Homo sapiens: one gene and its partners. The protein of the gene in region 3 purifies or fractionates together with the protein of the main gene of each other region. This does not show direct contact. Each region holds a gene or a part of one and is shown on either strand. Other genes may lie near its edges. The genes, in order: LIMS1, AARSD1, PARVG and RSU1.

The links.
Region 1: the proteins of PARVG (region 3) and LIMS1 purify together in Homo sapiens (affinity purification with mass spectrometry; 4 studies listed by BioGRID and IntAct, with this or other methods). This does not show direct contact.
Region 2: the proteins of PARVG (region 3) and AARSD1 purify together in Homo sapiens (affinity purification with mass spectrometry, with the first as the bait; 3 studies listed by BioGRID). This does not show direct contact.
Region 4: the proteins of PARVG (region 3) and RSU1 purify together in Homo sapiens (affinity purification with mass spectrometry; 4 studies listed by BioGRID and IntAct, with this or other methods). This does not show direct contact.

What each region holds. Positions count from the first base shown.
Region 1 is NC_000002.12:108,670,469-108,677,492, reverse strand, and holds part of LIMS1 (LIM and senescent cell antigen-like-containing domain protein 1), read right to left. Parts: intron 6,713-7,024; coding exon 6,646-6,712; intron 5,169-6,645; coding exon 5,048-5,168; intron 4,614-5,047; coding exon 4,464-4,613; intron 1,616-4,463; coding exon 1,465-1,615; intron 888-1,464; coding exon 795-887; intron 699-794; exon of another isoform or gene 563-698; intron 180-562; exon of another isoform or gene 2-179; intron 1-1. UniProt on the Homo sapiens protein: Within the IPP (ILK-PINCH-PARVIN) complex, binds to F-actin, promoting F-actin bundling, a process required to generate force for actin cytoskeleton reorganization and subsequent dynamic cell adhesion events such as cell spreading and migration.
Region 2 is NC_000017.11:42,961,440-42,969,219, forward strand, and holds the start of AARSD1 (alanyl-tRNA editing protein Aarsd1), read right to left. Parts: upstream 3,016-7,780; 5' UTR 3,002-3,015; coding exon 2,963-3,001; intron 2,799-2,962; coding exon 2,667-2,798; intron 1-2,666. Other genes in the region: PTGES3L-AARSD1 protein, read right to left, coding at 2,667-2,798; putative protein PTGES3L, read right to left, coding at 7,709-7,747. UniProt on the Homo sapiens protein: Functions in trans to edit the amino acid moiety from incorrectly charged tRNA(Ala).
Region 3 is NC_000022.11:44,190,902-44,197,925, reverse strand, and holds part of PARVG (gamma-parvin), read right to left. Parts: intron 5,878-7,024; coding exon 5,822-5,877; intron 4,126-5,821; coding exon 4,103-4,125; intron 1,772-4,102; coding exon 1,713-1,771; intron 1,580-1,712; coding exon 1,511-1,579; intron 1-1,510. UniProt on the Homo sapiens protein: Plays a role with ILK in promoting the cell adhesion and spreading of leukocytes.
Region 4 is NC_000010.11:16,751,405-16,758,428, forward strand, and holds part of RSU1 (ras suppressor protein 1), read right to left. Parts: intron 3,586-7,024; coding exon 3,467-3,585; intron 1,597-3,466; coding exon 1,514-1,596; intron 1,250-1,513; coding exon 1,135-1,249; intron 1-1,134. UniProt on the Homo sapiens protein: Potentially plays a role in the Ras signal transduction pathway. Capable of suppressing v-Ras transformation in vitro.

The DNA of each region.
Region 1 (7,024 bases), on a different chromosome or scaffold from region 3:
GAGGAGGGAAGGAAATTGTAATTCACAGTGATGTTATCAGCCAGCACCATGCCTGGGAGATCACCAGGGCAGGAGAGGTATAAAATGCTCCAGGGGCAAGGTTCTGAGAAGATGCCCTGCCACTGTATGAGGCCACAACCTGCTGTGTATAACCTCATCTAAGCACAGAGAAGCACCAGGTGAACCCAAGTGGAAAGTAGTCTATTAAAAAGGGGTTAGGGGCCCTCTGCATCCCTCCAAAATGTCAATGTCATCAAAAATTTTAAAAGACTCTGGAAACGTTCCAGATTTAAGAAGGCTAAAGAAACATCACAGCCAGAGGCTGGGTCCAGTCTGGGAGTGGAAAAAATGCTGTGAGGATATTGACTCAAGTGACAAAACTGGAATAAATGGTTAGAGTACGGTATCAATATTGATAACTACAATTATGTTAGAGAGTCCCATATTCTTGGGAAATATACACTGAAGTATTTAGGGATAAAGGAGTATGATGAACTTATTGGCAAAACAGCCATCGTACTTGTATATAATATTTACGTAACTATGTGTTTTACACAGGAAGACTGAGCTTGGGAAATGATAAAGCAAACTGTGGACTTGAATGAAAGACATACAGGTATTCTTTGTATATTTTATAGTTAGCTTCTGAGTCTGAAATTATTTCCCAAATAAAAAGTTAAAAACAAATCTCTACTGAACAATGTACATCTTCCAAGAGATTTCCTTGTAGCTAAACTACTGATAAGCTTAGGTTCATAAAAGTCTATCTAGCATCCAGTGACTAAGGTCAATACCTGGTTATAGTGAGTTTCACAATATGCCAGGCCTTTCCTCTCATAATGGCGATGTCCAAGAAAGGGTTTCTCACACTTGGCACAAACAAAATGCTGAAAAAAAATTGCTATAGGTCATTTTTGAATTGCCATATTTTATATCTAATAAAGTAAATACCAGAGTTAACCTATTTTCAGAGAAGATGAAGGAAAGTTTGAGACAGTCATTTCATTTGGCCATAGGTGGCCCCATAATATAATACTTCTGCAGTTGTAATTCAGGTGTCTGTCTTTGAAGGTTACTTTAAGACATAGCCTATTATAATAGCCCAAAAAGAGAATAGAGGTGAGCATCTCAGTAGCACCTATAAAGGAGGAGCTGCTGCTGGATACAGACCATGGCACTTCCTGCTTCAAGAAGGCTTTAGGAGCAAAAGTACACATCCTGTATCATTACTGAGACATTCACAAAAGCAGTGTACATTATATATTCTTAGCTGTCAGCAAAGTCAATTGTCTTTAAAATGTCCACGTTTAATCTTTAGAGTCTCCTAATCTTGCCAGGACACCTGAATCATGAAGATTTGAAAGTACTGGTTACCCCTGAATCATGGGAGATCTGAAAGTATTGGTTACCCCTTAATCATGGAGATTTGAAAGGATTGGTTACCCTTTGCCATTTAGAACTCACCTCCACATGCCACTGCTTGCCCATAGCGTTCACCACGCGCCCTTCGATGGGCCGTCGGCAAGCACCACAGATGGGGACCCCCATTTTATCATGGCATGGGAGGCAGTATAGCTCCCCTTTCAGCTCCCGTGCATCGGCAGTCAGCTCCTTCCTGTCCGTGAGAAAGACACACAGCTTAATACTAAGAGAGAAAAGTGGCCAACCAATGGGGCTAGCACACTTTTTAGAAGGTTTTTAAAGACATTACTATGACAATCCCTGCAAATTTCTTTTTTCCCCTTTAGAGGTGATCAGAATAACCTGAATTAATAGGCCTGAACAGGTTTCAGACTCCTACCAAAACATCTGTATCTTAAAAGGATAAGATGCAAGACTAGGTCAGATACATACCACCACACCAGTCATATTCATAATTTCCTTCTTATATTATCACATTACATTTTAGTCCATTTGTCTTCCTCTAAAAGCTACAGGGAATAATCACAGTGCTGAGGGTAGACTCAGTAATACTATCTGCTATGGTGTGACTGTGTCCCCAAAGTTCATGATCCCCAATTCTGAGGTGTTGAGAGGTAGGACCTCTAAGGGGTGATTACATCATGAAGGCTCTGCCCTCACAGATGGATTAACGCTGTTACTGAGGGGGTGGGTTCCTTATAAAAGGACGAGTTCAGCCTCCTTCCTTCTCTTCCTTCCCCCCTCCTCTTCCCCCACCATGTGATGCCCTCTGCTATGTAATGATGCAGAAGAAGGTCCTCACCAGATGCCAGCCCCTTGATCTTGGACTTCCCAGCCTCCAGAACCATGAGCCAAATAAACTTCTGTTGGTTACAAATTACCCAGTTTGTGGTATTCTGTTACAGGCGCATAAAATAGACTAACACACGACCTTTCCAAGCAAACTGAGAAGTTGGGAGACTAGTTCCATTTACTAACAATTATTTAAATTGTCACAAGCTGTTGAAAATAGTTATAGGTTAATAGGTTTATTTTCATAAACAACAAAATGCCCAGAATTTTCCTTCTCCAAATACTCAAATTAAATATTATTTTCAGTCTCCTGCATCAATAAACATTTGGTCAGAGATGGTCCCAATTAGTCAAACGGACTTGTTTGAATTTCATCCCTTTTATGTAATTCTCTAGGAGAGATGCTAATGAAAAGTGGACAGAGGTGAATCCCCAAGAGGAAGGACAGGCAAGAAAACGAGATAAGGCACAAACTGATAATTCAATCACAAAAGATGAGATGGCTGAACTTATACAACCAAACTGTTTTCTTTCTTTCTCTTTTTTTTTTTTTTTTTTTGAGACGAGTCTTGCTTTGCTGCCCAGGCTGGAGTGCAGTGGCGCGATCCACACTCACTGCAAGCTCCACCTCCCAGGTTCATGCCATTCTCCTGCCTCAGCCTCCCGAGTAGCTGGGACTACAGGCACCCACCACCACGCCTGGCTAATTTTTTTATTCTTAGTAGAGATGGGGTTTCACCATGTTAGCCAGGATGGTCTCGATCTCCTGACCTCGTGATCCACCCGCCTCGGCCTCCCAAAGTGCTGGGATTACAGGCGTGTGCCACTGCACCTGGCCCAAACTGTTTTCTTAGTATTTGGCTTACTGTTTCTTCTCCATCCCTACTATAATTTAGCAAGTAAGTTCACATTAACTACAGTAAAGAATATTTTTTTATTTTTATTTTTTGAGATGGAGTCACGCTCTGTCTCCCAGGTTCGAGTGCAGTGGTGCGATCTCAGCTCACTGCAACCTCCGCCTTCCGGGTTCCTGCCATTCTCCTGCCTCAGCCTTCCAAGTAGCTGGGACTATAGGCACCCGCCACCGTGCCCGGCTAATTTTTTTTGTATTTTTTAGTAGAGACGGGGTTTCACCGTGTTAGCCAGGATGGTCTTGATCTCCTGACCTCGTGATCTGCCCGCCTCGGCCTCCCAAAGTGCTGGGATTACAGGTGTGAGCCACCACGCCCGGCCAAGAATCTTTATCCACTAAATTTTTATACTAGGCAGCAAACTGAGAAAAATTCATAGCCCAACAATTTATCATAACTTATTGAAGACAAAAAATTAAATATATTTCTTTTAGATATAAACCAAGCCAAATTAAATAAATGTAACAACATCTTTTAAGATAATACCTAATTATTACAACTGTAAAAGTTATGCATGTACAGAGATAAGACCTTTTTTTGTTTTTAGATCTTCGATTGGAAAAACATAGTGATGACAAATATTTCTGGGGCTACTGGGAATATTTTTAATATGGACTGATAGTTGATATTATAAGATTATTGCTAATTTTCTTAGGCATAATAAGAGTATTGTGGTTCTGGCCAGGTGCAGTGGCTCATGCCTATAGTCCCAGCACTTTGGAAGGCTGAGATGAGTAGATTGCTTGAGCCCAGGAGTTTGAGACCAGCCTGGGCAACGCAGCAAGGCTCCATCTCTACAAAAAATTTAAAAAAATTAGTCAGGAAGGGTGGTGTGTGCCTGTGGTCTCAGCTACTCTGGAGGCTGAAGTGGGAGGACTGCTTGAGCCCAGGAGGGTGAGGCTGCAGTGAGCTCTGATTGCCCACTGCACTTCAGCCTGGGCAATAGAGCGAGAGAGACCCTGTCTCAAGGCAAAAAAAAATTTACAAAAAGTATCGTGGTTCCATAGGAAAATGCTCTTATTCTCAGGAGACGCATACTGGGACTCATGAGAAATTTTAGAGGTATGCGTATACAGGCACACGTGCACACATACATAGGAGGGTGAAACGAGAATGTGGACTGTATACACACAAGCATGGCAAAATGTCAACTGGTGAAACGAAATTAAGTGTATACAGGTTTCATTATATCATTCTCTTGACTCGTCTATAGGTTTAAAATTTTCTAGACTAAAAATTGGAGAAAAACAATTTGGTTTGCTAGAGTAACAGAAATATAGATAAATGTAATCTTTCATTCCCACTGCTTGTGTAATAAAAAAGAAACAATTCCAGTACCCGCAGTTGGCGCAGTTGAAATGGTCTGGATGGTAGGGGTCGTTCTTGAATATCAGAGGCTGCTCATCGATGATAGCATGGCATTTCTGGCAGATGTATTTCCCAAGGCCTCTGGCTTTCTCACGATTATGACAGGGGCGACACAGGTGTCTAAACAGAGTCAAAACTTAAATTTAAAATTTTAGGTTCTTTCTAATGGTTAAAAAGAAATATGCTTCCCTTATCTCTGAAAAGAAATTAAACAAACCATTTCTTAAAAAAATCACTCCTGTGCTTCACGGGGCAGAATCAAGCCACATGAAAAATGTGTTCCAACCCTAATATGACTGATTTTTAAGAAACTCCATCTAGGTACATCCCCCATTGGTAGTTCAGCCATGCATGGAGCAGTTATGCCCTGTGAACAGCAACACAAGGGTCCACTCCCAGCAGCAGCACTCAGTCAACACACTGCAGTGTCTGAGTTCCCATGCCCTCAATTCAGTGTCCTACAGAACTGCCTTACATCCCACATGGAGAATACACATGATCTTGTCACAGTCACATTGTCCACCCACATCTGACAAGGATGAAAATCCACCTACCTCCCAGCATTCTTGACAAACCCGATATCTGCCAGAACTTCCTGGCAGAGGTCACAGCGGAAGCACTCCGGATGCCAGCTGTTATTCATGGCTTTGATAACTCGGCCAATGATGAATTCACCTGTGGGAAAGCAACACACAAAGGATGTTACTAAGTAACATCCTAAGTAACAGGCATGGCACTTTATTTACTGAGAGAGTAATTAAGGAAAAACAATGAGGAAAAAAACCGTTGAAGCCTTTCTCAATAGAGGAACTTTTTTTTTTTTTTTTTTTTTTTGAGACAGTTTCGCTCTTGTTGTCCAGGCTGGAGTGCAATGGCACCATCTCGACTCACTGCAACCTCTGCCTCCCGGGTTCAAGCGATTCTCCTGCCTCAGCCTCCCAAGTAGCTGGGATTACAGGCTCCTGCCACCACGCCCGGCTATTTTGTATTTTCAGTAGAGACGGGGTTTCTCCATGTTGGTCGAATTCCCGACCTCAGGTGATCCGCCCGTCTTGGCCTCCCAAAGTGCTAGGATTATAGGCGTGAGCCACCACACGTGGCCAGTAGAAGAACTTTTTATGTGTCTACCAGAGTAAGCACATTAGCAAAAAAGTTTTATTTCATCTGAATTTTTGTTTTTGATTCAACAGCCACATTTTTGGGCTGTTTTGTGTCATCTCTGAATCTAGCTTTCCTGTCCAAACGAGCTACTAGGCTCTCTTGAATGCCTTTTGGTTATTTCTGGTCATTGTCAACATAGACAACTGAAATCTACAGCACAGTTTCTTATAACCCATACTTAATTTATTCTTTCATTAAACCTTTAGAACATTCTACCCAGTTTCTTCAATCTCTGGAAACCCGGCAGAGGTATTAGCAACCAGTGAAGTGGCCAACGTGCAAGCAAGTCCATCACTTATGCGCCGTGCAAGCAATGTTTAAGCATCCCTAAGCTTCTGAAGCACCTCACTGATTTCTTCCCTGCCTCTTTCTGGGCAAAACCAAAAGCAAGTTGGTAAAGGTTGTGTTAACACAGGAAAAGAACACTCCCAAACGCCACCCGATAGGAGTCCTAGTTCATCCCAAAATACCTCTACCTTAAATGTCCTTAAAAATCAATGATCTCTAGGTTTTGATACTCCTCCAGCTTGTTCTATGTTAACAATAGGGAAGAGGAGTGATGAAGTATCCAACAGTTATTCATAATGAGCACTAAAAACCATTTTTACCATCGATACTTCACCAGTGTGAAATGACTGAAGTAATGTGGAAACTTACTTTTTTTCCCCGCAAGATGGAGTTTTGCTGTTGCCCAGGCTGGAGTGAAGTGGTGCAATCTCAGCTCACTGCAACCTCTGCCCCCTGGGTTCGAGCGATTCTCCTGCCTCAGCCTCTTGAATAACTGGGATTACTGGCACCTGCCACCATGCCCAGTTAATTTTTGTATTTTTAGTAGAGACGGGGTTTCCCTACGTTGGCCAGGCTGGTCTCGAATTCCTGACCTCAGGTGATCCTCCTCCCTCCGCCTCCCAAAGTGCTAGGATTACAGGTGTGAGCCACCGCGCCTGGCCGGAAACTTACTTTTTACTTGACATTTAGCAGTAAAACTTACCACACTGATGACAGCAAGGGGCAAAGAGCATCTGAAAGTCATGTTCACAGTACTTTCTTCCTTCAAACTGAAAGAGAGGGTACCACCAACTTACAAACACGAAACAATCACAGGAGAAATATAATTATTTGATGAAGATATACAGGAAAGATGTTTCTAAACTAAGAGTTCTACTCTAAGAATTTATAACTCTACTGGGATTTTAAAAAGCAGATACTCTTTTGCACCATCCATACATCTACATGTTGGTACAGGAAAGACATATGGAATAAGTAGAGGCTAGAGTGAACAGTACACCTACAGGGACTGGTGACCTGGCCTCTGACTGTGCTGAATTGTTTTCTGGCTCAAATACCCTGCCTTTAATGAATCTGATGAA
Region 2 (7,780 bases), on a different chromosome or scaffold from region 3:
AATCTGGGCTCCCTAAGGGAGAGGGAGAAAGCAATGCCAAGTGAAATGAGTCCACTTTGTTCCATGAGAGGATTCTCAGTCCTTTTCATTCTAAACACCTATGTGTTGTGATCTTCAGAATAACAGAATTAAAGAGATTGTAACTACAGCAACAAAAATTTTAGTAAAACCCGAAGAATCTTAATCCTCAACTCTCCTTGCCTTAGTCTAGATTCTTTTGTAGTCTCTAAAATGATCTGATTTTTCCTCCCTCCCTCCACTCCATCCTCTTGCAGTGGTATTAGAATTAGATTCAAAAATGTTCATTTAGGCTGGGCATGGTAGCTTATTCCTGTAATCCCACCACTTTGGGAGACCAAGGCAGGAGGATCGCTTGAGATCAGACTGGACAACACAGTGAGACCCCACCTCTATGAAAAATAAAAAATTAGCTGGCCATGATACTCCCTGCTACTTGGGAGGCTGAGGTGGGAGAATCACTTGAGCCCAAAAGGTTGAGACTGCAGTGTGCTATGATTGCTCCACTACACTCCAGCCTGGGTGACAGAGTGAGACACTGTCTCATTTAAAAAAAAAAAAGGGCCAGGTACAGTGGCTCACACCTGTAATCCCAGTACTTTGGAAGGCCGAGGTGGGCGGATCACAAGGTCAGGAGATCAAGACCATCCTGGCCAACATGGTGAAACCCCGTCTCTACTAAAATACAAAAAATTAACTGGGCATGGTGGTGCACACCTGTAGTCCTAGCTACTCGGGAGACTGAGGCAGGGGAATTGCTTGAACCTGGCAGACGGAGATTGCAGTAAGCCGAGATCACGCCGCTGCGCTCCAGCCTGGCAACAGAGCAAGACACCATCTCAAAAAAAAAAAAAAAAAAAGTTCATTCATTTTAAAACATTTCAAGTGCCAACTGCTTACAAAAGACTGTGCCAGCCCAAGAATACAATGTAAACAAGATATGGTACCTCATGGAACTTAAGAGTCTAGAGAACAGAGGCTGGAAAACAGACAATTGCAATATGACCTATAACATGCCATAATATGAAAAAGTATATGACGCTAGAGAACCTCAAAGGAAAGAGACCTAACAGTCTTGGGGAATCAAAAAAAGACTTCCTGAAAGAAATGCTGTCTAAAATGAGACCTTCTATGGATACTTGAGGTCACAGGTTTTCCTTCAGCAGATCAGGGAAATCTTCATACTGGGAAAATCACCATAATAATGACTGATATGAAATTGGAACTCTCTCAATACCAAGTCTACTGAACATGTTCTCTCATGTCACTTATTTGCTTAAGAACCTGAGTGGAGGCCAGGGCAGTGGCTCACACCTGTAGGCCCAGCCTTTGGGAGGCCAAGGTGGGAGGACTGTTTGAGGCCAGGAGCTCAAGATCAGCCTGGGCAATAAAGTGAGACCTCATCTCTACAAAAAAGCAGCCAAGCATGTTGGTTGTGCGCCTGTAGTCCCCACTACTGGAGAGGCTAAAACAGGAGGATTGCTTGAGCCTGGGAGTTCGAGGCTGCAGTGAGCTAGATCAGGCCACTGCACTCCAGCCTGGGTGACATAGCAAGATCCTGTCTCTTAAAAATAAAAAAGAAAGAAAATAACCTGCATGGTTCGCTGCCCACACACCTTAATACACCTTTTTTTTTTCTTTTGAGACGGAGTCTTGTTCTGTCCCCCACGCTGAAGTGCAGTGGCACAATCTTGGCTCACTGCAACTTCAGCCTCCCGGTTCAAGTGATTCTCATGCCTCAGCCTCCCGAGTAGCTGGGACTACAGGGGCCTGCCAGTATGCCTGGTTAATTTTTATATTTTTAGTAGAGACAAGGTTTCATCATGTTGGTCAGGCTACTTGGGAGGCTGAGACAGGAGAATCACTTGAACCCAGGAGGCGGAGGTTGCAGAGCTGAGATCATGCCACTGCACTTCAGCCTGATGACAGCGAGAGATTCTGTCTCAAAAAAAAAAAGAAAGAAAGAAAGAAAAGAAAAGAAAGAAAAGCCTTTCTCATAATGCCCACCTTTGGTGTTATTATCCTCCTCTTCCATCTTCACAATGTACCTCACTTGCGCTCATGTTGTACCTAGTCCTCATCACAGCACTGATAAATATGCTCTCTGCTGTACTACTGTAACCCGTCTATCTCACCTGAACTCCTTCAGGAACATCTTTTTCAGTCCCTAAAACCCGAAGCTAATTCCTTCCTTGGGGCCTTTGCACCTGCTATTCTACCTGCCTGAATACTCCCTCTGCCCCCCAGCACCACTAGATAATTGCAAAGACTCACCCCCTCACTTCGTTTAGGTCTCTACTGAAATAACTTACCCTTCATCTAGACAAGCATCCCATCACTCTCTTTCCCTTTACTTGGTTTTTGTTTATTACTTATTATACCTAGCACACACAGTTGTCTTCAATAAACATTCCACGTATATAAAGGCACTGTGTTGTTCACCGGTTATCCTTACAGCCTGGAATAATATCTAGCATATGTTATGTCTAGATAAGCAATTGCTGATAAATACTCATTAAATGAATAACAAAATGAATTAAACTAAAGCTCATCTGAATTCATTATGGCTGAGAAAAAAGGGGCAGGAGAGCATTTCGGCCTGAGCACAAAGAAACTGGGGGCTTCCTGGGAAGAGATCGTTTTGGTACCTGTCCCCCGCCCTCAGGGAAAAGCACTGTGTCTTCCAGCACCACTTGGAAACCGCTCAGCACTTCTTTCTTGCCGTTGCTCCCTTCAGTCTGCAGCTCCGCGGGACAGCAGGAGACCACGGTGGTGGTGAACTGAACAGAGAGGAATGAGAGAATAAGCCCCGACCCCAGCCCTAGCCCTAGCCCTCTCCACACCAGGACAGAATGCCATGTTGGCACTCCCTACACGTGGCGCCCTCTTCCCCAAACCGCCTTGCCGGCCCGGCAGTCTCAAGTGCCTCGCCGTGACGCCGTACCTCTCGGGCATAACTGTCACGCTGACACCAGAACGCCATACCTGCAGGCGTGTGAGGAGGCGCACGCGCAGAGAAGCCTGGGAGCGAACGGAGAGCGACGTGGGACAAACGTCATCAAGGGCGCTTGTCTGCGCAGAAGCAGGAGGGTAAGGAATGGAATGCGGTTTGGATAAATTTACTGAAAACGCGAATTGCATATTTGCTGGGTTGTTTAACGACTGTTCTAAGGCTTTACAAAGGACAAGACCAGGAGGAAAAAAACAAACAAACAAAAACAAAAAAACGCGACCTGGACAAGGCACGTGGTTTAGTGAGCCCCTTGGGGCCCCAGGGATGTAAGTATTCTGGCTGCGGAATCCCAGCGCATAGAGGCGGGGACGGGACTGGCATGGTTACTGAGCAGCACTGCCCAGTAGAAATAGAAAGCAAGGAGCTGGGGGAGGTGGCTCACGCCTGTAATCCCAGCATTTTGGGAGGTCGAGGCGGGTGGATCACCTCAGGCCAGGAGTTCGAGACCAGCCTGGCCAACATAGCGAAACTCCGTCTCTACTAAAAATACAAAAATTAGCCGGGCGTGGTGGCGGGCGCCTGTAATCCCAGCTACCCGGGAGGCTGAGGCAGGAGAATCGCTGGAACCCGGGAGGCGGGGTTGCAGTGAGCAGAGATTGCACCACTGCACTCCAGCCTGGGCGACAGAGCGAGACTCCGTCTCAATTAAAAAAAAAAAAAAAAAAAAAAAAAAAGGCCGAGCGCGGTGACTCACGCCTGTAATCCCAGCACTTTGGGAGGCCGAGGCGGGCGGATCACGAGGTCAGGATATCGAGACCATCCTGACTAACGCGGTGAAATCCCGTCTCTACTAAAAATACAAAAAATTAGCCGGGCGTGGTGGCGGACGCCTGTAGTCCCAGCTACTCCGGAGGCTGAGGCAGGAGAATGGCGTGAACCTGGGAGGCGGAGCTTGCAGTGAGCCGAGATCGCACCATTGCACTCCAGCCTGGGCGACAGAGCGAGACTCCGTCTCAAAAAAAAAAAAAAAAAAAAAAAAGAAGAACAATTTGGCCAGCGTGGCCAACATGGTGAAACCCTGTTTCTACTAAAAACACAAAAACATTAGCCAGGCGTGGTGGCACACGCCTATATAATCCCAGCTACACGGGAGGCTGAGGCAGGAGAATCACTTTAACCCGAGAGGAGGAGGTTGCAGTGAGCCGAAATCGTACCACTGCACTCCAGCCTGGGTAACCCAGCGAGACTACGTCTCAAGAAAATTACATTACATTACATTAAAATAGTTTGGGCCAGACACAGTGGCTCACATCTGTAATCCCAGCAGTTTGGGAGGCCGAGGTGCCTGGATCAGCTGAGGCCAGAAGTTCGATACCAGCCTGGCCAACATGGCAAAACCCTGTGTCTACTAAAAATACAAAAATTAGCTCGGTGTGGTGGCGGGCACCTACAGGCTGGGATTACATCCCAGCTTCTAAGGAGGCTGAAGCAGGAGAATCGCTTGAACCTGGCAGGCGGAGGTTGCCGTGAACTGAGATCGCGATACTGCACTCCAGCCTGGCTGACAAAGCGAGACTTCGTCTCAAAAAAAAAAAAAAAAAAAAAAAAAAAAAAAGCAAATTAAACCAGGTGCTAATTTTTATCTTGTCAAATATCTGAAACGATTTAGAGAATGGAACACTCTCATTGTTCGTAGGAGTGAGAATTGGTACAATTTCATCAAAGAGCAACTTGGTAACAGCTATCAAAATGTTTAAATGTATTTTATCTACTCCTTGACCTAGCAATTCTACTTCTAGAAATGTACCCTACAGATATCCTGGCAAAAATATGTAAAGATCCACATTTTTAAATGTTGATTGCAATATTGTTTGCAAATGGTAAAAGACTGCCGGACGCGGTGGCTCATGCCTGTAATCCCGGCACTTTGGGAGGCCGAGGCAGGTGGATCACCTGAGGTCAGGAGTTCTAGACCAGCCTGGCCAACGTGGTAAAACCCCGTCTCTACTAAAAATACAAAAATTAGCTGGGCCTGGTGGCAGGCGCCTGTAATCCCAGCTACTAGGGGAGCCGAGGCAAGAGAATCGCTTGAACCCGGGATGCGGAGGTTGCAGTGAGCTGAGACCACGCCGTCGCATTCCAGCCTGGGGGACAAGAGCGAGACTTCGTCTCAAAAAAAAAGAATATGGTAAAAGACTAACGACCTACGTGTCCCTCAATAAAGAACCTGTGAAATTATGAAAAATACATTCAATGGAATACCATATAGCCATGAAAAAAATGAGTTAGATCTATATGTTCTGACTTGTAAAGATCTCCAATATATATTAAATGAAAAAGGGCACAATGCAAGATGCGGATGGTATGATTCCAGTTGTGTACACACACAGACACACACAACACATCTGCTAATTAAGTTTTAACATACTGCATGTAAGTAATATATACTATATGTTTATGTTCCATGTTATATATTGTTTTGTATGTTATATAATTATACCTTAGAACTACATAGTATAAAATAAATTATAGGTATTATAGTATTTATAATGCAGTATGGGGCCAGGGATGGTGGCTCAGGCCTGTAATCCCAGCACTTTGGGAGGCCGAGGAAGGAGGCTTAAGGCCAGGAGTTTGAGAGCAGCCTGGGCAACAAGCAAATCTTTACAAAAAAATAGTTTGTCCTAAAGACAAGGTCTTTACATATATATAAAATATATATTATATAATATATAATATAATATATAAAATATATATTATATAATATATAATATAATATATAAAATATATATTATATAATATATAATATAATATATAAAATATATATTATATAATATATAATATAATATATAAAATATATATTATATAATATATAATATAATATATAAAATATATATTATATAATATATAATATAATATATAAAATATATATTATATAATATATAATATAATATATAAAATATATATTATATAATATATAATATAATATATAATATATAAATATATATGTATTTATATATGTAGATATATAATATATAAAATATATATAATATGTATCATATATAATTTATATATTATATATTTTAAATATATAATTTATATATAATATATAAAATTAATATATATAATATATATTTTATATATAAAATTAATATATAATATATATATATTTTATAGAGCGAGACGGAGTTTCGCTCTTGTTGCCCTGGCTGGAGTGCAATGGTGTGATCTCGGCTCACAGCAACCTCCACCTCCTGGATTCAAGCCATTCTCCTGCCTCAGCCTCTGAAGCAGCTGGGATTACAGGCATGAGCCACCACGCCTGACTAATTTTGTATTTTTAGTGGAGACAGGGTTTCTCCATGTTGGTCAGGCTGGTCTCGAACTCCTGACCTCAGGTGATCCACCCACCTCAGCCTCCCAAAGTGTTGGGATTACAAGCATAAGCCACCGCACCTAGCCTACAAAAATATTTTTTAACTTAGTCAGCTGTAGTGTAGTCCTAGCTACCCAGGAGGCTGAGGCAGGAGGATTACTTGAGCCCAGGAAGTCAGGGCTCCATGAATAATGAATGTACCACTGTATTCCAGCCTGGGCAACAAAGCAAGACTCTATCTCAAACATAAATAAATAAATAAAGTTTACTTTTAAAGTAAATCCTAATAGTTTACCATGAGTTCAAGAGCAAAGTCTATAGGCAATGCATTTATTTTGTTTAAGTTACAGTCAACTGTACATATTAGGCACTCAAAAAAGTTTATGGACAAATAGAATAGCTGTTGGACAAATAAACATAGACATTAACTAGAGTAACAATCAGTTTTAAAAGTATAAAGAGGGCCGGGTGTGGTGGCTCATACATGTAATCCTAGCACTTTGGGAGGCTGAGGTGGGTGGATTACTTGAGGTCAGGAGTTCGAGACCAGCCTGGCCAACATGGTGAAACCCCATCTCTGCTAAAAATACAAAAATTAGCTGGGCCTGGTGGTGCACATCTGTAGTCCCATCTACTTGGGAGGCTGAGGCAGGAGAATTGCTTGAACCCAGAAGGTGGAGGTTGCAGTGAACAGAGACTGCACCACTGCACTCCAGCCTGGGCGACAGAGCAAGACTCCATCTCGGAAAAAAAAAAAAAAAGTATAAAGAGATTTCTAGAGTGTGCAGGAAGCTGAAGTGGCTGGTTCTAGAGATGACAGAATTAGCTGTAAGAAATCAGAGCACAAATCTGGGCAAGAGGAAGCACCCCAGCTTGGTTACTAGAGGGAGAAGAGGCTTGCCACCAGGAGGAATAAGTACAAGAAGGAAACAGACAGAGAACAGTTCCTAGAGATTTATTATAATCTGTTTCTTCTTTGGCTTTTTGCTTTGCCCCATATGCACACATAGTAGAGATTTCTATAATCTGCATTCTTCTTTGGCTTTTGTTTTGCCACATACACACACATACTCAAATAATCAAGTGGCCTAAACACAGAGATTAGAAACCAATCAGTAAGAAATCAGAAGCCCTACCAGTCTACCCCTCCCCGACCCTGCATCTGATGTGGAGCCATAGTCAAGTGCCTAGGAGGAAGACAAGCTTGAAGGACGACCCTTAATAAAGAGCTTCTAGGAAAGTTCAGAGATCTCAGAAGAACTTGGTGCACAGCCAAAGCGCTGACAAAGGCCTAGGCGCTAGCTTTCTAGAACAACTGGAAAATAGCCACAGCTGCCTTCCCAGCTTTGCGTCACAGAAAGTTAATTACTTGTTGCATCATCAGCACTGTCAGAATCATCCTGGGGGCGGGGGGGAAAAAAGACAAAGCACCT
Region 3 (7,024 bases):
CCCATTATTTTACCAAGGGAGAGATACAGATAGAACAGGTAGAATGTAAATCTCAGAAATCATCCTGTTTATACCCACATAAAATATAATAAAACTACAAATCTCTCACTTATTTCATGCCGGCAGCGTGCCAGGTAATATACCAAACACGTGGGGCTCACCAGCTCATGTATCACTCACAATTCTACCAAGTTGCTATCTTGTACCCACTTTATAAGAAGAAGAGCCTGAGGTTCAGAGAAGTCCAGTAACTCACCCAAGGTCACACAGCAAATGTGGAGGGTTCTCAGCAGACCCCAGGGCCCATAAGTGGTGGAGGCAGGAGGGAAATGTGTGTCTGTCTGGCTACAGAGCGTGATACTTCCACCCTGCCATGCTGCCACACCATATCACACACAAACTTCTCACGTGGCCACCATGTGAGGTGGTTATAAGCACTAACTCTGGCCCCAGCTGCCTGGGTTCAAATCCCAGGTCCACTACTTATCACTGTGTGACTTTAGACAAGTTAATTAACCTCTCTGTGCCTTAACATCCTCCTCTGTAAGTGGGGTAGTACAGTTCCCACTTCAGAGGATTATGGAGAGGATTCAATGAGTTAACATGGAAAGCATTTTGCCCTGGGACTGGCACATAGTGAGGGCTTTATTGGTTTTAGCTACTAGGCATGGGAGTACATTAACCCCTCCCTCCCCAGCCAATGCCCATCCAGAGTCTCTCTGAGAGGTCAGCAGCTCTGGCTACGATCTTCATGAGCCAACTGGTCCATCTGGGACCAGACTCCCTCCCCACCCCAGACCCCAGCACCCAGCAGAACCCAGGTGGCCAGATGCCTACGTCATGTCCCATTCAGGCCACTGGCATCCAGCAGACTCCATGCCCACTCTGCAGGCCCCGGGCTGGCAGCCGGTCTGCTACTGTGCACCCCCTGCTCCCCTGCAGTGTGGGAAGCCTACAGGGACACAGCTTCACTGTGGAAAGCCACAGCCCATGGTGGGTGCTGACCCCCTGAGATTCTGCTCCTGCTCCTGGGAAAATTCGACTTAAGTCAGCCGGGGGAGGGGCTGGGCTCCTCAGGGTGCTTGTGAGAGACATGGAGCCTGCAGACGGCTGGGCTGCGCTGTCACCTACGCCTGGCACATGGGACAAATCTAATAAATTCTGTTTGGGCGAACACAACCACGCAGGGAAGACTCATATGCTTCAAGTCTTGGCATCAGCTAGTCTGAGATTAATTATAAAATAAAATTATAACAATGAGAAGCAGTGACAGCCGAGGTGACTCCAGCTTTGTGAAGTGTTCCCACACCTCCACCCCCGGGATCCCACCATGTCCCTGGTGACCACTGCTGCCTGCCAGCAACAGTCCCACCGGGGAGGGGGACCCTAAGGCTCCAAGAGGTGATGCAACCCCCACCACACAGCAGGTTCCCAGGGCCTGCAGAACCCTCTTTCCTTCCTACGGCCAGTGGCCCTGCCCTGCCTGGGGACGCCGCAGCTCAGTCCCTACCTGGGTGTCCAGATTCTGCACAGACAGGCCCAGGCGGTCCAGCTTCTGGTTGACAAAGTTCACGATGGCCTAACCAGGGAAGAACAAGGGCCTAGCACACAGCAGGTGTGATGGGAGGACCCGTGATTCCCTCCTACAGCGCAGGTGGGCAGTGGGTGGGGTGGGCAGCCTGAGAGCCGCTGAGAGCTTTGATCTCTCCTACCTCTTTCACTGCGTTCACTTTCTCCGGAGCCAGCTTAAATAATTCATCAAAGACGTCCTCTGCAGACACAGATCCAATAAACACCTCATTACGATGCTATTATCTTTGTGCCAAACAGGGAATTTTTTTTTTCACAAAAGTTTCTTAGAATAACCAGTCCAGAGGGAGCTGTCGTTTTACATCATGGTTCTCAAATAAAACAGACCTGGATTTGAGTCACTGCTCTCCTGGCCGTGTGGCCCCAGGGGAGTCACCGTCTCTCTCTGTGCCTCCCTAGCTGGGGTTGTTGCAGAGATGGAATTCCATAGCAGATAACACACATGGCCCCATGGCACAGTGACTGGGCACACAGTAGGACTTCATAAACAGCCACTCTTCCTGCAGCTGACACCTGTTACTACATCTGCACAGCTGCATCCCTTTATCTGCCAGCTGGCACTCCCTCCTCCCAGGGCCCTACTCCACTCCCCAGGGCCACGGGAGCTGCCACAGGTGGGTGATCAGGGTCCATGAGTCTCCTCCCCTTGGTTTTAAATTGGCTGAGTGAGGACTGCTCCCTGCTGCCTCCCCCCGCCCCCAAGAGTGTCTGAACCTGCTGCCTGCAAAAGGCCAGCTCTTCAGCAACTCAGTCACTCCCTTGGGGTCTGGGAACAGCGGCTCAGGCCCTGGGGTCCAGCCTCGGGTGCCCATGTCCTCAGGCTAATGCCCTTTGTGCACTAGCTGGATTCCTGCTATTTGCAGCTAACATACCTCCCATGGGGACACTGGTCCTTGGGCACCAAATACACAGACTGGCCTGAGTTTGCTGTGGCTTCTGCCACTCAGCAGCTGTGTGACTCTAAGCAAGTCACAGCACCTCTCTCTGTTTCAGTTCCCTTGTTAGTGAAGGGGGAAAAGTAGCACCAAATAGCATCATGCACGTTAAAATGCCCCTGCTCTGTGTCCTTTCTTCACCCTCTGACACCCACTTCTCATGCTGCCCCCTGCCCAAAATACTGCTCCCTGGGCAACCCCTCATGTCCTCAGGCTGCCCCTCCTGCTACATACACAGATCCTCAGCCAGCCCTCCTTGCCCCTCCTTTCTCCTTTCTCCCCAAACTCCGCCTTCCTCAGCCCCCATTCTCAGAAGCTCCTGGCAGGTTATTATCTCTACCTCTGCAGGGAAGGTGCCCCTCATAGCATCCCTGCCCACATAGCTATGTGTCTAAGTGGGGAGGGTATAGGGAGGAAAAATAGTGTTAGGATGGATGGATATGGGTGAATACATAGGTGGTTGGATGGGTAGATAGATGAATGGGTGGATGAATAGGTGGGTAGGTGGATAGATGAATGGATGGATGGATAGGTGTGTGGGTGGATGGATGGATAGATGGATGGATGGATGGATGAATATATGGATAGGTGGGTGTATGGATGGATGGATGGATAGATGATGGATGGGTAGGCGGATGGATGAATGGAAGCATGAATGGATGGATGGAGGGATGGATGGATGGATGAATGCGTGGATAGGTGGGTGGGTGGATGGATGGATGGATGGATGGATAGGTTGATGGATGGATAGGTGGATGGATGGATGGACAGGTGATGGATGGGTAGGTGGATGGATGAATGGAGGCATGAATGGATGGATGGAGGGATGGATAAATGGATGGGTGGGTGGATAGATGAATGGAAGAATGGGTTGATGGATGCATGGGTGTATGAATGGATGGATGGATAGGTGGGTGGGTGGATAAGTGGGTAAGTAGATAGATGAATGGAAGAAAGGATGGATCAATAGATGGATAAATAGATTAATGGATGGGAAGGGGAAGAGCTGGCCAGACCAGTGACAAAGGAATGGATGCATGAAAGAAGTAACAACTAGAACAATCAACTGATTGGTGAACAGCTCTGTCAGAAGAGCAGAAGCCACATTATTGCCCACTCACTATTGAGCACTGCCCACATGCTGAACACACTCATACATTATCTCCTTTAACCCTCACTGCCAGTTTAAAAGGTGAGTGCCCTTTTATAGATGAGGAAACTGAGGCACGGACAAGTTAAGATACTTGCCCAAACTTAAGTGGCTAATGAGTGGGAACACTGGTGTTTGAACCCAGGCCACTGACTCCAGAGCCCACACATTTAACAGACTCCACCATCACTGCCCATGTGAATTATAAATCTCTCTCCCCACAGGAACAGTATCATGAGAAGGAGCAGCCAGCTCCATGGATGGACAGACAGAAAGAGGGACAAATGAATAAGAATGAGGCTTGAGATACAAACAGCAAGTGACAGGGAAATGAGAGAATGCTCAGCAATTAACCCTGCATTAAGACTTGTCTGCATTAACACGCATCAGATAGGAACAGATTTCCAAAAATGATGAAAGTACTCACTTGGAGGCTCGTCCTTGTCTGTGCTGTGCAGTGGGTGGAAAAAGCAAACAAATGGTTAAAAAAAAAACACCCCGCAAACCTACAATTTCTCAATATGACAAGCCTCAGTGCTGGCAAGGTTGCAAAGAAACTGGCATGCTTGTGGTTTTCCTGGCAGCTTTGTAGGTAGGGCAGATAGCAGAGAAGGTCTTTGTGGGAAGCAAAGGGCAGAAACAGGTTCATGCCCTTCCCTGAGGCTTCCACACCTAGAAACATTTGGACTTTGCTGGTTTTGTTGTTCGTGTTCTGTTCTGAGGGAGATACATCACACACATCATAAAGTGCACAAATCGTAAGCTCACAGCTTGTGCGTTTTACACATACACACCTGTGTGATCACCCCCACTTACATGCTGCAGAACCTCCCAGCACCCCCCGTGTTCTCCCTTCCATCCTCTCCCTCCCTACGCTGACCACAGCTGCGATTTCTCTTGCCATCTGTTGGTTTTGCCTGTCCTGGAAGTTCATGGAAATGAAACCATACTGCGTGTCCTCTTTTGGGTCTGGCTTCTTTCACTCCATTTTTATTGTTTTTGAACAATTTTTCTTCTTCTTTTTTTTTTGGTCACGTTTTTAGATCCACCTCTACCCCATAGAAGAGAAGTTCTGTAGGTCCAGGGCAGGCCAAGTCTCTCTAACCACAGCCCTCCAGAAGAAAGCTGGGGCCCACGGGGCAGAGCCCAGCAGCCTGTGACAGAGACCTGGGCTCAGCACAGAGGCCAAGGCTGCCAGGAGAGACAGACACCATGTGCTGTCCACACAGCTCCAGCCCCAGCCAAGCCTTCAGAGGATGGCAGCCCCACCTGGCCAGCATCTTGGCTGCATCCCTGTGAGAGATCGTGAGTTAGCGCCACACAGAAGCCAGCAACGGTGGACCTGTTGGCAGCCTGTGCAGCCCCTGGGCCCATCCCTCTCCAGGCCCCACCTGTTCTGCTCCATGGGGAGCAGGACAGCCATGCTCCCAGTGGGCGGGGAGCAAGATGGCCAGCCCTAGTGGGTGGGGAACAGTATGGCCAGCCCCAGTGGGCAGGGAGCAGGATGGCCACACCCCCGGTGGGCAGGGAGCAGTATGGCCAGCCCCAGTGGGCAGGGAGCAGGATGGTCAACCCCAGTAGGTGGGGAGCAGGTGGCCATGCCCAGTGGGCAGGAGGTAGGATGGCCACTCCCCAGAGGGCAGGGAACAGGATGGCCATGCCCCAGTGGGCAGGGAGCAGGATGGCCACACCCCCCAGTGGGTGGGGAGTAAGACAGCCACACCCCCAAAGTGGGCGGGGAACAAGACAGTCACACCCTAAAGTGGGCAGGCAGCAAGACGGCCAGCCCCTGGCCATGCAGGGGCCTCTAACTCTTACAGCTTTGCAAGGAAAGAGGAACATCCTGCTCACACTAGAGAGACAGATTCACTGGGCCCTGTACCCCAAACCCAGGGGCCCCCACCCTAGAAAACAAAGCAGGGTGGCTGGGAGGGGCCAGGCAGGGACCTGGTTGGAGGCTAGAAAGGGGTCCTGTGTGCTGCCGTGGGATTGAGAGGTCAGCGCAGCATTTTCGGGTCTGAGAGAAAGCCACAGAATGTGAGGGCCCTTCCCACAAAGGTCAGGCAGATCTGCCCTGGCCCCCACCCTGCCCCCATCCACCGCTGTGAGCCCCAGCCCCACCCATGGGCCCTCATCCTTCCCTCACCTGTATTCAGTGAGCTGTTCCACCAACTTCTCTGACTTCAGACCACTTTTGGTGCTCTAAGAAAAATAAAGGGGGAAGAAATTAAATAATCCAGAAAACTCTGGGGCCCAAAGAAGCCCCAGTGATCCGTTTGCTCTGTATCATCCCTCCTCAGGACAGCCTCTGGCTTAATTGTCTTTCTTCCCCAGGAGTCTTGAGGTTGGGGATGTGTCTGCCTCACTCCCCAAGGCATCCCCAGAGTCTCACAGTGGGAGGAGGGCAGTATCAATGAGCATGTGACTATGAACAAATGAATGGTGAAGGAGTGAATCAATGAAGTCACTTCTGATTTATGTTGGCAGTATAGACCAAGCCACACAACTGCTTGGTAGGGAATTATAATCAATGGTTTTAAAAAACAGTAGAAAGCCGGGTGTGGTGGCTCACGCCTGTAATCCCAGCACTTTAGGAGACTAAGACAGGTGGATGGCTTGAGCTCAGGAGTTCAAGACCAGCCTGGGCAACACGGTGAAACCCCATCTCTGCCAAAAATACAAAAAATTAGCCAGGCACAGTGTCTCAAATCTGTAGTCCCAGCTACTTGGGAGGCTGAGGTGGGAGGATCACTTGAGCTGGAGAGGCAGAAGTTGCAGTGAGCCAAGATTGTACCACTGCATTCCAGCCTGAGCAATAGAGCAAGACGCCATCTCAAAAAAAAAAAAAAAAAAAAAAAAAAATAGAAATGACTCTGACTGGGTGTGGCCAAACTTGGCTTATTCTCTTGGGGCGAGTCAGAGGCAAGCCCTCACACACAAAGCCCCTATGCATGAGGGACCCGAGGCTGGGGTGGGGTGGGGGCGGTCATGAGAAGCAAAGAGCTGGTGGGGCCCCCTATTGTGATGCTCAGAGTCTGTCTGGAGAGGGAAGTCGTGGATTCCTGGGTATTAACCGCAGCACAGGCAGGCCGCATGCTAGACAGAACATCTGAGGGTGGGGAAACCCGGCAAGGTTCCTAGAAAGAGAACAGGGCACTGTCACAGCCATCGGTAATCTCACAGGAGACAGTACCCTCATGGTGAGAGCATTGGTTTTGCTCAGGGCGTGAAGGCTCCCCGTGGCAATGAACGGACGGCCACGCATGGCTCAGGGATATGGCCTGACAGCCCCTGGCCTCAGCCTCTGCCAGCCAGATGCCCTCTGCTGAGGTCAAGTGGAGCTGGCCAG
Region 4 (7,024 bases), on a different chromosome or scaffold from region 3:
CACGAAATCACGTGACTGCCTTCCCTTTAGACTAATATGGCTGCCAACAGAACTCAAGGTGCTGATAGGCGTGCTCTGTGTCTCAGTCTTCCTATGCGTAACCATTAGCCACATGAGCCTGCTCATAACCTTCCTAACGTCCTGTCATCCAAGGTCCTTGCTTCATTAATTCATTCAGTCAGTGTTTTCTGAGCACCTACTGTACCCGAGGGAACAAATACAAAAATGTCCCTGCCCTCCTGGTGATTGCATTCTAATTTCTAACAAATGGCCTCTTCAAACTGCCAAACTTGTTTAAAGAACTGCTTCCTCAATGTGTTTCTTAAAAATGATGGTATTTTGGAGTAGAAAAGCAAATAATCGCAGTTTGAGAAAACAATGTGGTTCAAAGGACTGAAGAAATGAGAGGCTATGGAGGGTCTGCACAAGAAAAGATAAGGGAACTCGTGAACCTTTTGCAGTGGAACGAAGCAGTAACAGAATTACTGGCTTGGAGGTTATTTCTGGCGGGGGACATAAACCCACCCTGGAAATAGGAACGACCTGGCAGAGAAACAGGATTAGGATTCAGCGGCCAGGAGTAGGATCCATTCCCAGCAAGAACATATTTAACAATTCCTACTAGAGATGGGATCAGGAGAGAGGCAAATTCACGACCCGCAGAGGTATCAACATGTTCAAGTAGCCATAACAACTACTTTAACTATTTGGTAAAAGTTTTTCCAGGTCAATAAAAATTTAAGGGGTTAAAAAGTAAGAGTGATACTTAAAGTTATTAATAACCAACCAAGACCCAGAAAGCTTACCCAGCTAGTCAATGAGGAGCCAGGGATAAGGCTCTTACTACTAATCCCATGCTTTTCCCACTACATCACGCAGGGAGCTGAGCGGGGTCATCTTTCATCAGCAGTTTCTAAGACAGGGGACACTACAGCTGCAGAACACAGGATCCGGGAAGGTCAAACCTGTAACAGCTAACTCTGGTCAATGACAAATGGTTCTCAAATGATCAGCATCGTGTGCCTAGGTGGAGAGTAGTTGCCAAGAAGAGGACAGAGGTTGTTCAGAATTGCTACATTAGGATAATTGTTATTCATGAAACCCAGAACTAAGTTCATTCATCAGCAACCTTACCTAGTTCTGGGGGCAGAACGGTGAGGCGGTTCCCCTGAATGTGGAGCTCTTTAAGCTGGGTAAGCTCCCCGATTTCCTTAGGCAGCGAGATCAGGTCGTTATCCCTAAGGCTGAGCTAAACAGAAGAAAACAAGTTGTCAACATATTTACACATTAAAAGGTGCTCCACAGAAACTCTCATCCTCTATGTCCTCTCTTCTACTAAAGCTCAATCCTTTCCATGTATTTACAAGTGCCGGCGGATAATCAAGAAACACTATCAGGAGTAGTGGTTTATTCCCACAAAACAAACCTTACTCCTGCTCAAATTGACTTGATTCTACCCCTACAAGGCTGCAGCAGTGAATTGATTTTCTAAGAATTTAGATAAATTACTTACTATCTGCAACTTTGTGAGCTTCCCAATATCTGGCGGCAGGATTTCAAAATCGTTGTCACTTAGATAGAGTGCACGCAGGGTGGCTGCAAATTAAACAGCAATATATAAACAGGGTGGCATGGAACACAACCATTTGAGGTCTGATCAATACGAGGGAGTCAGCTTTGATTAATAACCCTGGCTTGGTGAAAAGCCTTTGACATACCTAGGGCTCCCAATAATAACAAGCAGGTCAAACTTAGATTTACTGGCTTATTGTGTAGCTGGTGTGTCCAGGAAAACATCTATATCCAAGAGGAATGACGCAATTAACAACTGTGGGCGCCAGCATTTTGGGGCACAGAGTTTCAGCACATTTTCAGAAAAGATTGCTATACTTCTCATAGATTACTTTTGATTCACATTTATTTCTCCATTTGCATCCAAAGTAAAACAAAGAACACTACTGTGCCACTTTTATGGATACCTAGGGCAAAAGGGTTCTTTCAAGAGAATACAGCTCTGTTAAAATAGACCTTTTCCTATGTAAATAGCACTGTGTTACAAATTAATGGAAGGCTTTCTGGTGATGGAGGCTATAACCACAGCTCATCAGTTCCATAATCTGACTAATTATTACTACGTGTTTCTACAGCCTTAAGGACAAAAGTAAATGAAGACAAAGAGGCTAAAATAATGACATGAAGTTAACAGAGTAAATCCTAACTTAAGGAGAATATCAGTAGTCAGAAATTTGTTCATAATTATTACACAATGATAATACGATTCCAACCTACTGAAGGCTAAAATTCTAAAGCATCTGTTTATCTTCAACCAAAAAAGCTGAGTATAATTAGATACATGTTTTGTTTACCCGTATTTATTTTTTAGAGACAGAGTCTCGCTCTGTCACCTAGGCTGGAGTGCAGTGGGTCACTGCAGCCTCAAACTCCTGGCCTCAAGCACTCTTTCTACCTCAGCCTCCCAAGTAGCTAAGATCACAGGCTCATGCTACTATGCCTGGCTACTTTTTAAATTTTTATTTCTAGAGACAGGGTCTCTCTATGTTGCCCAGGCTGGTCTTGAACTCCTAGCCTCAAGTGATCTTTGTAGCTCATACTCCCGAGAACTGCATGTTAATATAACATAATAAAAATAGTTGCTCCACTGCCCAAGAAAATATTTTATAGTTGGTTTCATGTGCTTGAGAAAGTCATAGAAAGGTAATGTACGTAAGGTAAAAAATAAAATTTTAGAGATCAGCTCTGAAAATTCAGATTTTCTGAATGCCACACAAGTTACTATTTGAAGAAATAGAACACTGATTTAAGGGAAGCAAACCTTGTCCAAAATAGTGCATGAGTTCCCAGAAGAAATCATTTTTTAATTTTCAAAAGCATCTCCAGCAAGAAATTTGTTTGCATATGAAAGAATAAAGTGTGTTCACCTGTGGCCAATAATTTCTTAATGCCTGTGTACTGGATAAATAGGTCAATAAGAGTACTTTTTAAAAGGCTCAAAATAGGAATACTGGCTGGAAAATTTTAAAATTGTGTTACTGGTTTATTAATAAATATTTTTAATAAATAATTGGTTGGAATATCCTGGGCAAATATCCTACAAAGAATTAATAGCAACATAGGAAGATACTTTTTTTTTTTTTTTTGGCATGCTATTTAAAAAGAAAGTCAAGTCTCTTAGCTAAATGTGAGGCTTGATCTCATTTAGGTATATAATCTCTCTCAGAATGTTAATATGACATTACTAAGTCCACTTCAGCCCAATGGTGTCACATAACGATCTATCAAATGCACATACTGCTGAGCTACGAAGGAATATTCAAAAGGAGTCTCTAAAGAAAAAATTATCTCTGTCCAATAATTTCTCTTGGAGTTTGGGTCCTGGCAAATAAATTTCCCTCTCAGAACGCAAAGTACAAGGTTGAGGAGATTTATAGAATTGAAAGTTTCTTACTCAGGTAGAAGAAGTTTCCAGGAAGAGAATTTTCGCTCAAGTTGTTGTACGTCAAGTCCAGAACCTCAAGAGCTGGCAGGGAGCCGAAGCCTCGTGGCAAAGTGTTCAGCCTGTTCATGCTGTTGCAGGGGGACAAAAATCTATGTCATGACACCAAAGACACATTCATACAGACTATCAAGGGCACCTCTGTTTCAGACGCTGAAAGTGTAAGACAGTGCCATGATCCTAGAGTCACTTTATACTTTATTTTTATTTTTTATTTTTTTGAGACAGGGTCTTACTCTGTTGCCTAGGTTTTAGTGCAGAGGCATGATCTCAGCTCACTGCAGCCTCAACCTCCCCAGGCTCAAGCGATCCTTCCACTTCAGCCTCCCAAGTAACTGGGACCACAGATGCACGCCACCACGCCCTGCTAATGTTTGTATTTTTTGCAGAGATGGGGTTTTGCCATGTTGCTCAGGCTGGTCTCAAACTCCTAAGCTCAAGCAATCCTCTCACCTAGGCCTCCCAGAATGCTGGGATTACAGGCGTGAGCCCCCATGCCCATCCTTTTTTTTTTTTAATTAAAAAAAGCATTTATTTAATATTTACAATGACAAAGATTGTACATACTTATGGTGTACAACATGATACTTCTGATGTATGTATACTACATCATGGAATGGTTTAAATCATACTATTTAACACACGCGCTGCCTCATATGCTTGTCATTTTTTTTGTCTTTTGTGGTGAGACTGCTTAAAATTCACTCTCTTAGCAATTTTCAATTATACCACATATTGTTATTAACTGCAGTCACCATGATGTACAATCCATCTCTTGAACTTATTTCTCCTAACTAAAATTTCATGTCCTTTGGCTAACATCTCTGCAATTCCCCTCTCCCTCCAGCCTGTGGTAACCATTTTATTCCCTGTTTCGATGAGGTTTACTTTTTTACATTCCACATATAAGTGAGAAGGTGTGGTATGTTGTCCTATTTAGGCTAATAATTTCAGTCAGACAGCTTACATGATCTTGAAACACTTGAAAATTTCTTAGCTGTTATTTTCCTCCAACGGTGAAACTTAATCACTGCTTTACACAAAAACTCAAACCATTACAAAATATCTTTCCTTGTAAAGAACAACTTCCCTATGAACGTAGTGATAATATCTCAAAATATACACATGAAGCTTTGTAGTTTTCAGGCTTTTGCTTGATTTCATTCCATTTATTCCTTTTTTGGAGGGAAAATCATGTTTTTGTTCTACAACTGCTAACACTGAAAATTATCTTCAATTAGAATGGTGATGGCCAGGGGCTGGAGGGAGGGGGAATGGAGAGGTGTGGTTTAATGGGCGTAGGATTCAGGTTTGCAAGATGAGAAAATTCTGGGGATTGGCTGAACAACAATGTGAATACGCTTAACACCACTGAACTGTCTACTACAAAGACGGTACATTTTGTGTGCATTTTATCACAACCTAAAAAATTTTTAAATCATACAATTGACCCTTGAGCAACATGGGTTTGAACTTCCTGGGTCCAATGAGACATGGATATTTTTCTTCTACCTCTGCCACCCCTGAGACCGCAAAACCAACCCTCCGCTTCCTCCTCAGCCCACTCAACATGAAGAGGACGAAGACCTTTAAGATGATCCACTTCCACTTAAAGCACAGTAAATGCACTTTCTTTTCCTTACGACTTTCTTAATAACATTTTCTTTTCTCTAGCTTACTTTATTGTAAGAATGCAGAATAGAATACATGTAACATACAAAATATGTGTTCATCAACTATTTCTAGTTTTGGTAAGGCTTCCAGCCAACTGTAGGCTATTAGGAATTAAGATTTTTCGGAGTCAAAAGTAATGTGTGGATTTTTGACTGCATGAGTCATTGTGTTGCTCCCGCAACCCATGTGTTGCTCAAGGGTCAATTGTGTGTGAGTGTGTGTGTGGGGTGTGTGCTGTGTGTGTGTGGTATTGTGTGTGATGTTATGTGTATGTGTATCTGGGTGTTTCGTGTGGTGTGTGAGGGGTGGGGTGTGGTGTGTGAAGGACGTGGGGGGCTGTGTGGGGGCGGGTATGTGTGTGGTGTGGGGTAGGTATGAGTGTGGTGTGGTGTGTGTATAGGGTGTGTTTGGGGGTGTGGTGGTGTGTGTGTACGCAGTGTGTGTGTGGTGTGTGTGTGGGTGTGTTTGTACACGGTATGTGTGTGTGCTGTGGGTGTGGTGCGTGTGGGTATGTGTGGGTGTGCGTGTGTGTGTGTGGGCGTGTCTCCAGTGAAGTCTAAGGGAATTTTTTTCTACACTATCTTTTATCCTTTCTTCAAGCCCCTTATTTTTCTTAACGCAGTTCCCTTTGAGCATACTTAAAAGCCAATTTTTAAAAAAAAAATTTAATAAAAGTTGACAGATACTGAAAGGTGGAAGGGACTGTGACAATAAAAATCATTCTAGCCATCGATCCTTCTCCTAACACATTCAGCTCCATCCAGCCCTACCAAGAGGGCCTCACCAGAAACAGCTGACAGCAGAGGGGGCAACCAAAAGGGAAACGCGGGTTCCCCCTGTCAGGCAGAAAACTTCCCAGACAGACTACACCCAGCAAAACTACCTCCACGACTATCTACTGCCACGACAGCAAGAACAAACATTCTCCATGAAGTCACAATTTGTGAAGCACATTATGGCAAGGACTTCGCTTGTTCACTAAAACTACCTTGCAATACAGGTAAGATGGAGCTTGTCATTAATGCTATGTTGAGATGAAAAAACAGCCTAAGAGAGGGTGAGGAGCCAAGACTTCAGAAGTGACTGATGAAGGCGACATGTGTCTGGAAACACCCCATACCGCACGGAGGCCAAAGCTGCTCCAGACCCTTGGGCTCTGATACAAGGATTCTGAGAAGAATTGCAAGTCAAAGGAAGGACAGCAGAGAAGACCACACTAGGTGCTTCTGTCTTTAAACGCTGCTTTCGGTTATCTCTTTTTGAAAACTGCTGATTCCTTAACATTTTTCTCTGCAAATAAATACACTTTTGCAATATTAGGTAGAGGAAATCCACGGTTAGACAGGCTTAGAGGGAAGAGGCATCTCACCTGAGAGAGAGCTCCCACTCAATCTTCAGCCCAGAGCAAGCCTGGAGCCCCTCCACCTCCTGGTGGCAAGAATCTACTTAATTGCAGATTCCTTTTTCCTTTGAGTGACAAACCAATACCCACAACATTTAAGGAACACAGCAGAGTCCCATGTGCCGCTGACAGCAGTAAGTAACAGTGGTAGGCACACCACCCTGGCGGGCAGAAAGAAGTCCTTAAACAAATGCTAAAACTTCAGAAGAATTGCTAGCAACAGCCCCAGCTACAAAGCGGCCAAGGAACTGCAGAGACTTCTGGCCACCTCTCCGGACACCAGTCCAGGTGGATGGTGACATGGTGGGTTCTCTCTCTGCAGAATGAAGGATGGAACATGCTGGCTGTCCCCCCTCCCTCCAGCAGGTGCTAACATCCATCTCCATCCATCCACATTTTGACACATAGGAATTCCATGCTCAGGGCCCCGCTCT